2 separate regions of the Homo sapiens genome follow, and region 2 is linked to region 1. Evidence: fine-mapped expression QTL. Tissue or cell type: whole blood. Region 1 holds a variant in brackets; the other region holds the start of a gene. All regions are shown on one strand. Distances are from middle to middle.

The links. PIP is the estimated chance that this variant, and not a neighbour inherited with it, causes the effect.
Region 2: it holds the start of SGCE, and the variant in region 1 is fine-mapped to the expression of SGCE in whole blood (TOPMed, PIP 0.94).

The regions. Positions count from the first base shown.
Region 1 is chr7:94,559,600-94,567,706 of GRCh38, forward strand. It overlaps a transcript of CASD1 not described here. Among named protein-coding and RNA genes, the nearest start is that of CASD1, 54 kb to the left of the region's middle. The variant G/GAC (reference allele first, on the strand shown) is at 4,475.
Region 2 is chr7:94,651,151-94,659,257 of GRCh38, forward strand. It overlaps SGCE (sarcoglycan epsilon), which reads right to left and starts at 4,983. Exons shown (of 11, transcript NM_003919.3): 1 at 4,840-4,983. The coding sequence starts at 4,948. It overlaps PEG10 (paternally expressed 10), which reads left to right and starts at 5,175. Exons shown (of 2, transcript NM_001172437.2): 1 at 5,175-5,441. The coding sequence starts at 5,437. RefSeq lists enhancers at 4,331-5,108, 6,378-6,427, 7,207-7,501 and a silencer at 6,898-7,137.

The DNA of each region.
Region 1 (8,107 bases):
ACTGCATCCTCTGCCTCCCAGGTTCAAGCAATTCTCCTGCCTCAGCTTCCCAGGTAGCTGGGATTACAGGTGTGCACCACCATGCCTGGCTAATTTTTATATTTTTAGTAGAGACGGGGTTTCACCGTGTTGGCCAGGCTGTTGTCGAATTCCTGACCTCAGGTGATCCACCTTCCTCGGTCTCCCAAAGTGCTAGGATATAGGCGTGAGCCACCGTGCCCAGCCAAAAATGTATTAAAATTCTTATTTGGAATTCAAAGTAAAACTAAGAAAAATGGAATAATTAAATGTATTTTCCCTTTATTTTCAAATTAAAATATCTTCAATATTATACATGCCTATGTTATATTAAAAGCTTATACTATCATTCAGTAAAAATAAAGCTTGATTCTATATCTGGCAGTTTTGTTGGTTTGTTTTGTTGTTTTAATTCTTAGGCTTTGTCTTTCTCTTTTCTATCCATCCTTAGTACTTGATTTTTGACTGTAGCTCTTTCATAAGTAGGTTAGTATTTGTTTTGTTTTTAACAAGTCACAGGGTCAAAGTCCTGCTGATAGACGGAATGAATATGCCTTCCTTCATAAGACTAGACTAGACAGGTTTTTGAAGATAACTAATATTGGGAGTGGCATGATGTGTTTTTCTTAGGTTAGTCAGGAGAAAATAGTGGCAGTTATTTCTGGTGTTGAGAGAAAACTAGAACTAAGAATTCAGCACTTTCTTTCCTTGACCCCTTCCATTTTATCCCCACCTCTAGACCCTGTCACTGGGAGAGACAAAGTGATGGAAAAACATTTAGTTGAAGTCTGAGGAATCCAGTACTTCCAAAGTACGTAATGCATAAGGCACATGGAACTGGAGCCCTTTCTCAGAGACTACAAAATTAAAAATGGAAACTATAAAGAAGTAATACCTGGGCCAGAATATCCAGGAAAAGTTTTAGAGTAACGGGAGAAGTGGGATTTGTAAAGTTGTATATTTGGATATATTATTTACACTAATATCAGTGTGGAATGGATGCAAGAATATATAGATTAATGGATAGAATCAGCATAAAAACAGATTTTATCAAAAGATATTAGAATAAGGTAATGGTTTGATTTCACATTACTGGGGAAAGGTAGAAATATTCTTTAAATAGCCCTGGGACTATTGCTTAATTGAGGGGTGAGAGTGATAAATTCCCATTCTTACTCTGTATACCAAAAGAAATATAAAATGATTAATAGGTTTAAAGACATGTAAAATAAACAGTAGAAAATGTAGGTGAACATCTCATTCTTAGATGAGAAATGACCTGTTAAGGCTAAAAGGTAAATCCAGAATTGCTACATCTATTACGTGAAAATTTAAAATTTCAGTATGCCCAAAAACATAATAGAAAAAATACAAGTGGGAACATTTTAGAACATTAATATTTGATGAGAATTTAATGTCCTGGTTCGTGACCAGCCTGGCCAATATGGCAAAACCCCATCTCTACTAAAAATACAAAAAATTAGCCAGGTGTGGTGGTGGGGGCCTGTAATTCCAGCTACTTGGGAGGCTGAGGCAGGAGAATCGTTTGAACCCAGAGGCAGAGGTTGCAATGAGCCGAGATCACGCTATTGCACTCCAGCCTGGGCAACAAGAGCGAAACTCTGCCTCAAAAAAAAATTAATATCCTGGGTATATAGAGAGCTCTTATAGTTTAGAAACACCAAGCTGTTTTCCAAATTTCACTTGGTTCCTAATTCTACACAGAAGGTCACTTCATTCAGATACCTCAATGTTCATTACATAAATAATTTAACTTGGAAGAACATCAGGAAACCACAGTACTCAAAGTTAGGCTTTCTATGGATGCTTTTTGGGAATTGCGGGGAGGGCAAAGATTTTTTAATGGCCACTGTTATGCCTTCCTTAAACATTTTCCAAACTAAAATTAATTAAGACTAGGTTATATTGAGCAGAACTTTGGAACCTAAATGGCCCATCTGTCTGTGTGAGAGCACAGATTCAATTTTTTTTTTTCCTAAAGAGAACCTCGGTCAAACTCTAGAGTATTCTCTCAGAAACTACTGATTATTAAACTCAAGTTTGCCTAAAAGATGTCACTCCTACACCAGCTTAATGTCTCATTAAGACAGTTTTTCTTAGAACCCTAGGGTGGCTGAACTCCAGTCATGAACCGTCAGCTAGCTAATATCTATCTTCTGTGAGTTTGACTGTGGTTAACAGTATTTATAAAGGAATGTTAGGGATTTGCTTTTTATCACTTCCTCAGATACTTTAGAATGTACCTGAGAATTAAGTCTGGCAAGCACCTAGCAAAGACCGCCTGGACAGTAACTTCCTGACTTACCCCTAGAATTTCTCTTGAGTTTGAAGCCATTGGTTAGCATTGCAGGACATTCTATAAACAATTCTATGAAACTCATCATTGTGTCAACTGTAGGAATGTTGATTACATCACACAATGGGCTCTTTTTGTGGAGTCTGAAGTTATTCTGACCTTACTGTAATATTTGCACCTCTTGTAAACAGTTCATTTGCTACTATCTTAGGTACATTGTGAGTTGGCTTTTTATGTTTGCCGATAAGAAGCAAGAGCTAAATTTGTGCTCCATCTAGAAAACAGGGCACTTTGGTATTGTTTATATTAGTCTCATTCTTGATCCCTTTTTCCTTCTCATATACTTCAGATGATGTTATTTGGCTATATTTTGCCTAGCCTTATAAGCCATCTTACATTCTTTTTTGAAATGAGGCAGTCTGGTAGTCCTAAGTGTTTCTTCAGACCACACCAGTCAGGATGATCAAGAGTCATAGTATATACAAATGGTAGTAGTAATATTTTTGCCTCACTGGTTATGTTTGAAAATCCTAGTCTTCCAAGTCATTTATCTCCTCATTAGGGTCCCTGAGTTGCTCACGAAATGTCCCTATAACAAATGTTCACAGTTCTCTGCAATTTATGAAAATAAGGCCGAAAGTTCTCCTTATCCTGTTCACTTCATGTGTTTCTTTTCAGTCGATACAGTTTCCTTTTTTTTTTCTTTGAGATTACCAAAAATTCCAATGGTAGCTATGCCATTTCCTTCTCTAACTGCCAATTGTTTCCTCTTTTGAAATTGCTGCTCTGTGGACCAGATGTCAGGCTGCAAACTCAAGGTGTTGGTACACACTTGCCCTTATGACGTAGCAATAACCTCTTCTATGGATGCTTCTTACTGCCATGTCAACATGTTCCAGTCTGGGAGTGGTTTCATTTTAGACCAGGTGGTCTCCTACTGGGATGTAGTCTCAGCTGACCCCCTTTTTTTTTATGCCAGAGAATGCTGGAGGATTCAGGAAAATTCCTGTATTTTACAGCTTAGTTTTCCTGGCCCTTCAGAAAAATAAGAGACACCGGAACAACCTGATATGATGGTACCTAGAAGGAGTAAGATCTTCCTTATGCTCAACCCTATCTTACATACAAAGGCCTTTGTAGAAACAGCAGTATCACCTTTAGGGGGGTTCTGCTCTATGAATCTCCAATGATGTATGACAAAGTGAGTAGTGACTAAATTGCTGGAGAAATGAGTAGCAAGAAGGGACATGGAACCTGAAGACGTTGAGTGGACCACACAAGAAAAGTGGTTATACTACCTCCCTCCTTACCCCCTTTTCCAAATATCCTAAACGGAGGCAACATTAAAGAGGCGTCTTCCATGCAAGGGTCAGAAAAGGCCTCTGTGGAGATAATAGTTAAGCTCTGGAAAACTCTTATACATAGCTAAGGAATTTGAGGAAAAACAATTTTTTGGTGGTTTGGTCAATTAGAGAATGAAGCCATAACTAATTACTTACCACTTTCAATTTTTTTCTTAAAATGCCTGCTTATTTTTTTTTATCCTTGTGCAACTTAAGGGCTTGTCTTTTTCTTGGTAATTTAGAAGTATTCCTTGTGTAATAAGGATGAAAACTCTAATTTTGCAAACACTTTTCCCAGTTGCCAGTTGTCTTCTGTTTTGACTGTTATTTCTTACATTTTTTGTTTTATCAAATCCATACATTTTTCATTAATAGCACAGCCCTCATTTAGCCCCCCTCCCCCACGCCCCCGCTGAAAGCTGGCTACCATTTTTATCATTTGGTATATGTCCAGAGCAGTATCCCTAAGTGTGGAATGTGTTGCCCCCAGAACCCAAAGAGCCTACTAGGCACTAGGAGCTTCTTTCTTTGCAGTAGGGAATACAAGATGCAGCAATGTGTTTTTTATTTTGATGGACATGTCTTGTCATAGCCCTGACTGCTGGACTCTTAAAAAGTGTACTTAAGTGGCAAGACTACTAGTCTTTTAATGGCTTATTTCCCATACTCTAGAGTACGCATGTCTCACCAAGACCTCCAGTGTGATAACCAGTTTATGAGCATGATGTCCTCAACATAATCAACATAATATCCTATGGGATGTTTAGATAGTTTAGATCTCTTCAGACTATTTTAT[G/GAC]ACACAGCAAAAGAGTTACCATAGCGAAGAAGCAAATGAGTATTTTTGTCTCTTTCATGTGAATGCACACAATTTCTGATTAGAATGGAAAGAACACATTCACTAAGCCAGTAGACATGTACCTGAGGCCTTACTACTCTGCTCTAGCAATGAAACTGTGTCTGGCACAACAGTTGTGGTCCAGGCTACTGCTTGGTTGAGCTTGTTGTAGTGTACTGATATTCCTCAAGATCCATCTGGTTTCTGCAGGGCCAGACTAATGAATTAAAGTGATATGATAGGGACCACTATCCCTGCATTCTTTGGATCTTTAATGGTTGCACTAATACCTTCCATCACCCCTGGGATAAGAAATTGTAATTTACCGTCTTTGGCAGTTAGGGAGGCAGTTTCAAAGTCTTCCACTTGGCCTTCATCCTCTATGATAGCTCTTGCCCCACAGGCAAAGGACCCAATTGAGGCTAACTTCAATTTTCAAGTATATAAATTCCAATTATACATTCAGGAAATGACTGCAGGGTCCTGGCTAAAGTAGTAGTAAATGGGGTGCATGGTCCAACAGGATGGATCCATGGACATAGTGAACCTACTTTGGCCAGAACCCCATTTACTACTTAGTCTTTGCGTGCGCCCACTCTGAAGGCCATGAAAATACTTTGGGTCTTCATGTATCAATGTCAAATAGTTGTCAAAAAGGCTGGTTACTCTCCTTTTAACAGCAACAATCACATTAGTAAATGTCTGTAAATCTCTATGAGGGAAGAACTGAAGAAAGCTTTGCAGTACTCTATATCTTTGTCATTGCATTGCAGGGTTCTTTCTCTTGGGAAATTGGCTAACTCTTTAGGTAATGGGTTCCAGATCTGAACATAGTCTCAGATCTGGGAAATCAGCAAGGAATTGCAGTGCTTTATTGGGCTACAGCTCTCAGCCTCCTGCTCCTCTATTCTTGCCTTCTGGTTGTATATGTTAAGTAGCACAGTAATTCGCTGCCCATCTATTTTTCCCCTAGAGACACCATATTCTATTATCTATGTATACTACTCCTTCCCATTAAGACCCTTTGGCTACCCCCAAGACTCTAATGGTAAAGCAACTCTGACACTTATGTGCCACTACCTGGCCTCTATTATTTTGGGGCCTATCAACCCATTGTGAATAGCAAGACTAGTTCTGTGTATATTCCCAACCCATGTTTCAGAGTCCCAGGCTTCACATAAGGGTCCTAAATTTAGCGTAATAGACCTGCCTTGGCTGAGCATTTAAACACCTCTGGTGCTCTGTAACCCTAGTTATTAAATCCTGAACTTACCACCCACTGAAGGTATAGTTCCTCTTTGTAAGCGTCCTAAAAGGTCCTGTGGCTGTAAAACTTAGCTTATGTCTGTTAACTGCCTTCAGCTTCTCATCCTCCATCTACAGGACAGTCATACAAGTGAGCAATAACCCACTGACTTAACTGTCCCTGTAGGTGCTGTTCCTCCCAAAACCTTCAAATGCCTCAATTATCACATTAGTAAGGATGCTTCCCTCCACCAGGACATTCTCCCAGGTCACCACTAATGGAAATTTCAGCAATTAAGCTATCACCTATCCCAAGGACTTCATGATTCACATTCTGCTTAGTAAGGGCTTCTCGTTGCCTGCCGAGCATGAGTGAGCCAGTCTCCTAACCTCATCTAACCATATACATTCTCAGACCATTCCAGGTGCCAACTATGTCACTTTGGGTTCCCTAGAAGCAGACAGAATCATATGTGCAATACATTTGCTAAGGAAAATACTTGTGAAGGATAAAGGGGAAAGGTACCAGGGGTAGTCAGAGAATTGGGTAAGAAGAGCTTCAGAATGCAATGTAGTTTCAAGAAAGTCTTGGCTAGGATGATGGGGAGCTCCAAAACCAAGATTACCATTGGAAGTGTCAATCATTGAGCGGGAATGAGCTGGCTCTAGTACCGCTTCCATGCCCAGTCATTGGCTGGGATCAGCAGCCCAGGGAGAGCCAGGACTTCCTCACAATAGGTTTTTTGAAGGGAGAGCTGAGCAGCATATTTTCATGTCAACCACAAAGAATGAGGTGAGCATTTATAGTTAATAACAAATGAATGCAGAAATTTACAATTAAATTCATGGGCTTCATCAAAACACCAGAAATAAAACTGGGAATAGAATCATGTATATGTGAAAATTCTTAGTACAGTGTACATAGAATTTTATAAGCAAGGAAAGGAGGGAAACAAAATATAATTTAATTTTTATCTAATTTCTGATAAAGAATAGCTCAAGCATATAAACAAAAGAAAGCAAAATGAATGTGATTATAATACTTATAAAAAAGAAATATTTCTTAGTCAAAAGAAATGCTGCAAACAAAATTAAGAGTCAAATTGAAAAAAAAAACTTGACAAATAGACCACTTTTAACATCCTTACATAAAGAACTCTTACAATTTTTTTTAAACACAGGTTTTCTCCAACTTATGGCTGTTTCATAGTTGAATGATTCCATATAGTACTTTAATTCCATTACTTTGGTCTCCATTACATAAATAGTTTAACTTGGAGGGTGCATCAGGAAGCAACACTGCTTAAAGCTAGGCATTCTAATGGAAGCTTTATTGACTTTTCTCTCTCTTTTTTTCAAATGTGCCATAGTGGGCTTTTGGTTACACCTTCCTTAAACATTTAACAGAGTAAAATTATTGAGTCTGTGCTATATGGAGCAGAAATCTGGGCCCTCAATTGACCATTTGTCTGTGATTAAGAGCAAATTCAGTTTCTTCCTGAGGAGAACCTTAGCCAGGTCTTAACTACCCCTCGGCTCATCATGGTGTGGCAGTATGATGGCTCTTCTGGTTAGGCTTTTTAGCATGCAGAAATATTTCTCCTAACCCTGGTGGATCCTCTAGCAGTTTATACTTGAATTTGTACTCTCAATCATCCAAACAGAATGGCTATACTCCAGATATTTACCAGAGGTGTTACACACTTTCACATTTATTCTGCTAACTGTGATGTTTAGTCTTACTGCTTCCATCCTTTTTTTTTTTTAATCTTTCTGTTACAGATTTATTTCCTATTGGAACCAAGTCTGTGAGTTCACACCCACATACCAGATTTTGCTTCGTGATTGTCAGAGGCTAGAACTCATCCATCTTGTTTAATATGTATTTTTTGTTGACTGCTCTTTATTATAGTGATTTATTTTTCTCTTTTCTAACATGTTGAAATGGCCTAGTTTTTATTTATTCTCTATTGATTTGAGCCTCCTATGCCCTGCTTCTGTCATACCAGTGGTTACCTTATCTTTCTTCAGAATTCTAATATCTGAGTAGGGCCATGTAAAAGAAAGACATATTATTGAAACAAAAATGAAAATTGCCATGAGCCCCTTTTTTACCTCATGAAGCATGTGTATACTTCATTTTTGGCAAGGTACTAGCCTTGAAAATACCAGTGCAGTAAGGGGATTTCAGAAAGAAGACACCAGAGAGTTTGTAAGCCCCTGTCTCTCAACATTGTGGTCATCTTTAAAATACCAGGGAAGCTATGTGGAGAGAACTGAAATAGGAATGTCTACTGTTGCCAGCCTATGCCTGCTAGCTTCTTTTTTCAAAGGCAAGGTCCTTTATTA
Region 2 (8,107 bases), 92 kb after region 1:
CACCATACAAAGTCATCTCCATACTTCCATACCAATGAATTATGATGCATTTACTACTATAAAATATTTTTTTGCTTTCAGCACAGCATTGCAGCCCACTTAAAAACCATGTTAACTCTAAATTGTTACCTATTTCTAACAGCTATCCCTTTTCAATTAATCCATGGATTTTAAAGCAAGCCTCTTAGATCTTCATCAAAGTCATTCGTACAAATGCTGAGGAAGACAAAACTCAGGGCAAAGGCTTATGATCCTTAACCAGGGACGATACCCTGACGCAAACCCAAGAACGTATACACCTCGCCGGTGCTGGTTCAGTCTGCCTCCCGCTCACACAGCAATACTGCTAATTAATCTGCACACCACCTCATACACAAGAGCATCCTGCATCCTTGACAAATGCTTTGCAGAAAGCAGGATTAACTTATCTTTCAAAACAAAGTGTAAGAAATCTATACATATTAAAATTATAATTATATACAAATATTTATGTACACAGAACAAAGACTAGAAGGGATACAACATCAATGGAAATGGTTGTTCCAGAGTCAGTCTGTGGAAACTGGAGATTTGTTTTTTACTTAATACTGTCTTTAATACGGTTACAGAATTTAAAACACTGGGAATTATGAAGAGAGAATTTGGCTTGGAAGCAATCCATGTGAAATAGCATTTAAGAGCATTGAGACTCTATCTGATCCTATCAACCTGAAAACTTGAATCAGAAACATATTCACTTGAAAAGACTTATTGATACCTAGAAACATTGGCTTTTTCTTCTTTATTATTTTTTTTTTTTGTTTCTCGTACTGCTACTTTAGGCTTAATATTTCTGGAAATCAGGGAGATAACAGACTGGAGAACTGGATTCCGAAGTTTAGAAAAAGCCTGAATGGAGTGTGCGTTAGTCTATGTATGCTCCTCACATCTGTCTGTCTGTCTGTCTCTGCTGGGGAGGTTGAGAGGGATAGAAAGAAAACAGCCATCATATTGATATTTCTGTGAAGCTATGGACTAAGCGATCTCCCCTCCAGCCCAAGAATTTCTAACGAACACAGACCCATATCATCAATTCCCCTAGAGTCATTTTTTTACACTGGAGGTAGGAAATAAGTGTTAGAATATGCATTTAGGTGTTTACAGAATATGGAAGGGTAAGTTTTAAGGAAAGGATTTGGGTAGATTATGGATAATTAGCAAAAAAGAAAAAGGAAGAAGGTGGCTGGGTATTTTGGAGAAAATGTGATCTATAAATACTGCACTTATTAGAATCAGAAACAATCTGAATATTTGACTTGGGAATTTTTTTAACAAGTCAGGATTTCTTCACTACTTCAATATTTTGTGTACTGCATGATTTTCACCAGTGGAAAACTAGTGTTAGAAACTGGATACATGTTATCTTTATTTCCTTGAGGTTGTCGCTAACCAGTTTTTTCTGGTGTTGTCCCTTATTTTCAATGTCTGTGAGACAAGTGAAAATGCCACTTTGCTTAGAAATGCAATTTATCCACCATACTATAGGATAAGTAAAATACATGAAGCAAATCAACAGCTTTTAGATTTATGGCAAACTGTTGTAAAAATGGATAAAATGTTCAATACAAAGTCCACTTACTCTTTGACAACTGGAAATTGTACTTTGCTTAGAAATAAATTTTCCGTACCATACCAGAACTTAAGCCAAATACAGGTGGTAAGTCAGCAGGTTCGTAAATCCATAGCAATTGTCATTAAAAATGAATAAGGTGTCCAAATAGAAAGTCCAGTTATTATTTGACAACTGAAAATTTTACTTTGCTTAGAAATATATTTTCTCTATATTAGAAATTAAGCCAAATATATGTGGTAAGTCAGCAGATGCATAGATCTATAGCAAATTGTCATTAAAAAGGGATAAAATGTCCAAATAGAAAGTACAATTACTATTTTACAAGTGAAAATTCCAGTTTGTTTTGAAATCGTTTTCTAAAACCCTAGAACTTAAGCTAAATACATAAGGTAAATTCAACAGCTTTATAAATACATGGCAAATTTTCATTAAATGGGTAAAATGTCCAAAGAGAAAGTCTAGTTATTATCTAACAAGTGAAAATCCCACTTTGTTTTGAAATACAATTTTCTTAACATACTAGAAGTTAAATATAGGTGTTAAATCAACAGCTTCGTAGATCTACAGCAAATTCTCATAAAAATAGATAAAATGTCTAAATACGAAGCCCAGTTATTATTTGATAAAATAAATAATACACATTAACTCCTCTTTGCTGTATATGCAACCCTGTGCAAAATGGGCAGAAATAGTCAACACCAGAAATAAATATCTGAGAAAATCCAAAATTCACATAGATATTAAATATCCAAAATATGTTTAAAGTTCTTATCTATTAATTTGGTTTTGGTTTTGGTTTTGAAAATGTTTGTTGTTCTAGACAACACAAAAATGTTACCTAAAGTATTGCTCTATTAATGTTATCTTTCTGTTTTATTTTTAGTATTGTTTTGTTTTTTGGATAACAAAAAGGTTTTATCTAAATTACTTATATATTGATGCTGTTTTTTCCCTTAGAAAATTCTATTTCTAAGCAAAGTGAAAATATTTTCATATGTAGAGGAATAAAAAACTACAATATGTTAGAATAGTGAGATGGGAGAAAATTCTTCTCAGTTTTCTGGTTTTAAATATTTATGTACTAAGGTTGTTCATTTAAAATTTTAATTAAAAAATTAATATTATTTCCTTTAAAGAAAGCTCTCCAAACTTAATGTTATTTAACATTTAAAGGCTCTTTGGAAAGAAAATAATCGAGGAGAATTAATTTGATCTTGTTTTTAACTTTTAGAAAGTATTTAACTGCAATCCTATGAAAAATATTTATTGTATAGCTACCTATATATGCATAGAGAACGTCTGAAAAAGCAGACTCTATAATGTTTACTGGTGTTATTGCAGGGTGAATAGGTTACAGGTGACCTTTTCTTTAGAGTTTTCTAGGGTTTTCTCTCCTGAATTTTGTACAATGACCTGAAATTACTTTTATTATGGTAAAATACTAATTACGTTTTTTAAAAAAAGTCCTGGTTAGCATTTTGAAATGAAAAAATCAAATTGGTTCAAACTTGTTCAAACTTTTAAAGTCTTAAGATGGATTTTTGAACTTTAATTTTTCCTGCTTTTCATCTATACTGGTTTTAAATCTCAATTTTTAGAAAAATAATGTCTCAGTTAACTAGGTGAAGTAACTTTCGAATTTAAACAAACAAACAAAACTGGTAAGAATTTGACAGCGGTCACCAGAACAGTACTCTACCAAGCATAAGAAATCCTGGAATTATTCTATCTTGCAGAAGAGGGTGAACATCCTAAAGATTAAATTAAAAGGCACTTCTAAAAAGTATAATTGTGTTTACCCAACTTCCTAGGGAAATGTCTTTGTTAAAAAGCTGCATTTCATTCATTCATATTCCGGATAGTGGGCATTTTCTAATAAAAAGTAAAATCTCAGTAAATGGGCTACAGTTTTGTTTATTCCTAGAAAGGCTCTCTTTTAAAGTGCGGTGTCTGCAACGTTGTTATGACAATAAGTCAAATTCTTATTGATATTCCAAGTATAAAATAATCCGTAGCAATGTTACTAAAATGTGCTCAATTTTGCTCTTCAAATATGAAAGCGTTTCATCTGTGTTTCAGAAACCTAACTCAGCTGTAGACAATTTGGTTTTCCCTTTTAACTTAAACTTGTTTTACTAAGATCATCAACAGATTGTCAGTTTCCCAAGCACCTGACACTGAGGCGCTTAGATGGGAATCCGCGTTAAGGTTTTATTTAGCATCCTTCCTCATCAGAATTTTAGCGTCTTATCAGCCACTGCAATTTTCCCTGACATAAAATATATATGTTCATAGTACAAATGCACGCAAATATTTGTGGCCGAATCTCGGCAACCCGCTGGAAAGGATTAAACGTGCGGTTGCCGTGACTAAACGCATTCATTCACCCTACAAGATTTAGGAAAATGTAACGTTGCAAGGGAAGCAAGGTCTCTGTGTAAACCTCGTAATCGCCACCAAAAGTCGGTAGCTGGGAGCCTTCAAAGCCCGCCAAACACACTGGAAGCATCCACAGCTGTTTTAAATTGGTTTTGGTTTCTGGAAATAGCGCACTCGGTACGGCAGCATCTCTGGCCTCCAGCCGGGGTTAACCCTGACCTGAACGCCCTGTTTAGCTCCCAGCATTTCATGATTCCGCTTCCCTGCTCCGTAAAACCGAAGAAAACCGAGATTTCCGTCACCGAGAAATGCACTTAGCAAGAGGGGGAAATTCGGTGTTTTAAATGTCACATTTTTGTGTTCTCTACCACTATCAAGAAAAGGAAAAAAGATGTGTTTGTGTAGCGGGGACGCAGCTTGACACCCATTTCCTTTGGCTCGCATCGCGGTCGCAGAGCCCAATCGCGGGGAAACGGGCCCCCCAGAAAAACAGGCAACGACCCCCAGCTCTTTGCTACAGGGATCGGGAGAGGACTACCCTGGGGCTGGGCGGGGAGGGGGATGTTGGGAACAGGAATTGGAGATGGAATTTCTGCGCCCGCAGAGCAGGGAGGGGCCCGCGGGGGCGCGGAGAGGAAAAAAAGGCCAGGGGTCAAGCCTGGGGAGAGAGAAGCTGGGCCGGGGAAATGGGGTACAGGGTGTACTGAAGGAGGGGTACGGTGGGGTCCGGGACAGAAAGAGAGGCTGGTGCCCAAAGGGCGCGCTCAGGCGCCCGGAACCCGAGCGGGGGAGGGGGAGGCGGCGGCCTGTTGGCCCCGGGACCTCCACGTCGCGCGCAGGCCACTAACCTGTCAGCAAGAATGTGCCAGTGGTCGCGGGGCTCATCCTGCGTGTCCCCCGACCCTGTCCCGTCCAAGCACAGGGGTCTCCCAGCTCCCACCACCGGGGCAATTGCATTCTTGGCCTGGCTAGGCCGTCCGTCCTCGATTCTCCCCTCCCCTCCCTTTCTTCTTCCCTCCCAGCTTGGCCAGTTCAGCATCAGCATCCCGCACCCCCTCGGTAATCCCGTACTCCCTCTAGCGGCGGGCCACTGCAGCGTGGCCACCGCCCCCACCCCCATCCCCCATCCCCGCACCCCCCTCCACCCCCTAGCCCGCGGAGCACGCTGGGATTTGGCGCCCCCCTCCTCGGTGCAACCTATATAAGGCTCACAGTCTGCGCTCCTGGTACACGCGCTTCAACTTCGGTTGGTGTGTGTCGAAGAAACCTGACTGCGCCCTGAGGAGAACAGCGGAGAAGGTCCACCGAGCCTGGCGAAAGGTCCGCTGAGCGGGCTGTCGTCCGGAGCCACTCCGGGCTGCGGAGCACCCAGTGGAGACCGCGCCTGGCTCAGGTGTGGGACCCCATCCTTCCTGTCTTCGCAGAGGAGTCCTCGCGTGGTGAGTATGCGGTGAGGACGTTTTTTTTTTAAAGATCACGTTCATTCCCCGTGCTTATCGGGAGCTGCGGGAGATGGAGTAGCACCCCAGAATGTCTCCACGCAAAACTTGTCACGCCTTCACTGGCTGTACCCCAAAACAAATGGGGAAACCAAGCCTTAAAGGCTTGGGTTTCCAGGACCAAGTCCAGATACGGGCTGTAGACAGAGATGAGCTGCGGACAGTGATGAGCTGCAGACGGTCAGGAGCTATAGATCGATTTGCAATTTGCTCTTCAAATGCGCTACCAAGTGCCATGCTTTACAAACAGATAAGCGCTTCAAATGCGCTACAAACTGGCGCTTCAGATGCGCTACAAGCACGCTTCACGCGGGCGACAAACTGATGGGAGCTACAACTGGCGCTTCATTGCGCTATAAACTGATGGGCGCTTTATGTGCCACAAACTGACGGATGGGCGCTTCAGTGGCGCTACAATCCAGAACGAGGAGCAGCGATATAGGAGCTGCAGACAGAAAACTGAATTGCGCTTTACATGCGCTGCAAAATCTGAGCTGCAGAAGAGTAGCACTACAAAAAACGCTACAAAAACGATGCGATTAGCCAGCCCGACAACAGCGCTTCATTGCGCTGCGAGGCACATGAACTGCAGAGGTACATGAGCTGCGGAACAATTCACACCTAAGATGCACTACAAAGTGGTAAGAGCTGCAGAGGTACAGGAGCTGCAGACCGTTTGCGCTACAAATAAAGCAGCCGTAGTGGGACATGAGCTGCGGAGTACAATTCCTCTGTTTTCTTGGAGCAGGACCCCACCCTTTCACCTTTTGGAATGGCTCCCACTCTATTTTTCTGCAGGACGGTTCTCGCATGATGGTGCTGGTAGACAAAATGGAGCCCCGGGCAAAAATTAGTGTTTAACATTCTGCCCACACCATTCCCGCTATAGCAGTGGAGTGGAGGGGCACTGATTGGAGTGGAAATGGGAATCTTTTGGTGATGGCAGAGCAGGCTGCCTGCCTACTTGTGCTTGATTGAAGTGGCGGTGTAGTTGTGGTGGCGCGAATCAGCGTCCAGCAACAGTTTGTGGAAACTGTGGGTTTGCTGAGTATGGCGGGGGAATTGGATCTGTGGATTGCTCTTGCTGCATGAAATGAATCTGGCTTTGGTGACTGGTGGGAGGGGTTTGGGAGGGGGGATTCTGGCGGCGGGGGGGGGGGGTGTGCAGATACTCTGCAGCCCTGTAGCAGCCAGTCTCAGGCCTGCCCCGCCCATCCTAGTGTGCCTTCTCTGCGGTGCTTAGCGCCTCCTCCTACAGCGCCTCCTCAGAGCGCGCCTCCCCTGCAGCGCGCCTTCCCAGAGCGCGCCTTCTAGATGCGGCCTCCTCAGGCCCCTCCTCCCAGCTCCTTAGCGCCTGCCTGCCCAGGCCCCACCTCTCTCTGGCCACCTCATTCTGAGGTGAGCTGCTCAGGCCCCGCCTCTTCCAGGCCCGCCTTTTCTGTGGTGAGCTGCCCAGGCCCTGCCTCTCCCGGGCCCACCTACTCTGAGGTGAACTGTCCAGGCCCCGCCTCTCCCGGGGCCGCCCCCTCTGAGGTGAACTGCCCAGGCCCCACCTCTCCTGGGCCCGCCTCCTCTGAGGTGAACTGCCCAGGCCCCGCCTCTCCTGGGCCCGCCTCCTCTGAGGTGAACTGCCCAGACCCCACCTCTCCTGGGCCCGCCTCCTCTGAGGTGAACTGCCCAGGCCCCGCCTCTCCTGGGCCCGCCTCCTCTGAGGTGAACTGCCCAGGCCCCGCCTCTCCTGGGCCCGCCTCCTCTGATGTGAGCTCACCCAGATCCCACCTCCCCAGGCCCGCCTCCTCTTAGGTAGCCTGCTCAGGCCCCGCCTCTCCAAGGCTTGGCCCCTCCCTAAGCCTGCCTCTGCCGGGCTGGCCTATAGTCCCACCTCCCTCAGAGCCGGCTAGCACACATGCGCAGTGTGAACCCTCAGCCCCTCCCTTCAGGCGCCGGTCCTCTGCACCTGCGCACCTTCCTTGCCTGAGCCCTGGCTGTACAGCCCCGCCCCCCTGCGGTTTCTCTGCTGTGTTGGTTTTGCTTTTTGGCTACTAGAGTCTAATAGAATAATAAATAAAACAATTAACAATAATAATTATAACTGGAATTTATGAGCACTTTTAATATGTTCTTTGCATATATTCAATAACATAATCCCACAATTTAAACTCCTGATAGTGGCTTATGAAGGGACCTTGTAAACTGACATGGCTGGTGCCTCTAAAGGCAATTTAGCCAAATGTTTTTACTGCAAATGAAAACCAAAACTTAACAATTTATTTTTAAAAACTTTAAAAATATTTTCACATTTAAGGTTTTTTTAGAGGCACTAGTGGACCTTTGGGAATCGGATGTTTTGGTGGATACAAAATTGGTGCTGTTGGTTTGGCCTCTGAGTGAGGATAAGGCTTTTATTTGCGTGCCTATGAAGCTGGGTGTTTTCCTTGAATCTCTAGGTGATTAACCCTAGCCTATTTGCCTATGTATAATAAATTGTGCCTGCACATGGTAGGCATTCATTAAATATGTGTTAAATGACCAGAGTAAATTGGTTTATTCAGTGTCTTGCTTGGTGTCTGTAGGTCTCTTCTGATTTGCTCCTTTCCTATGGTGCTTTGCTGTCCTG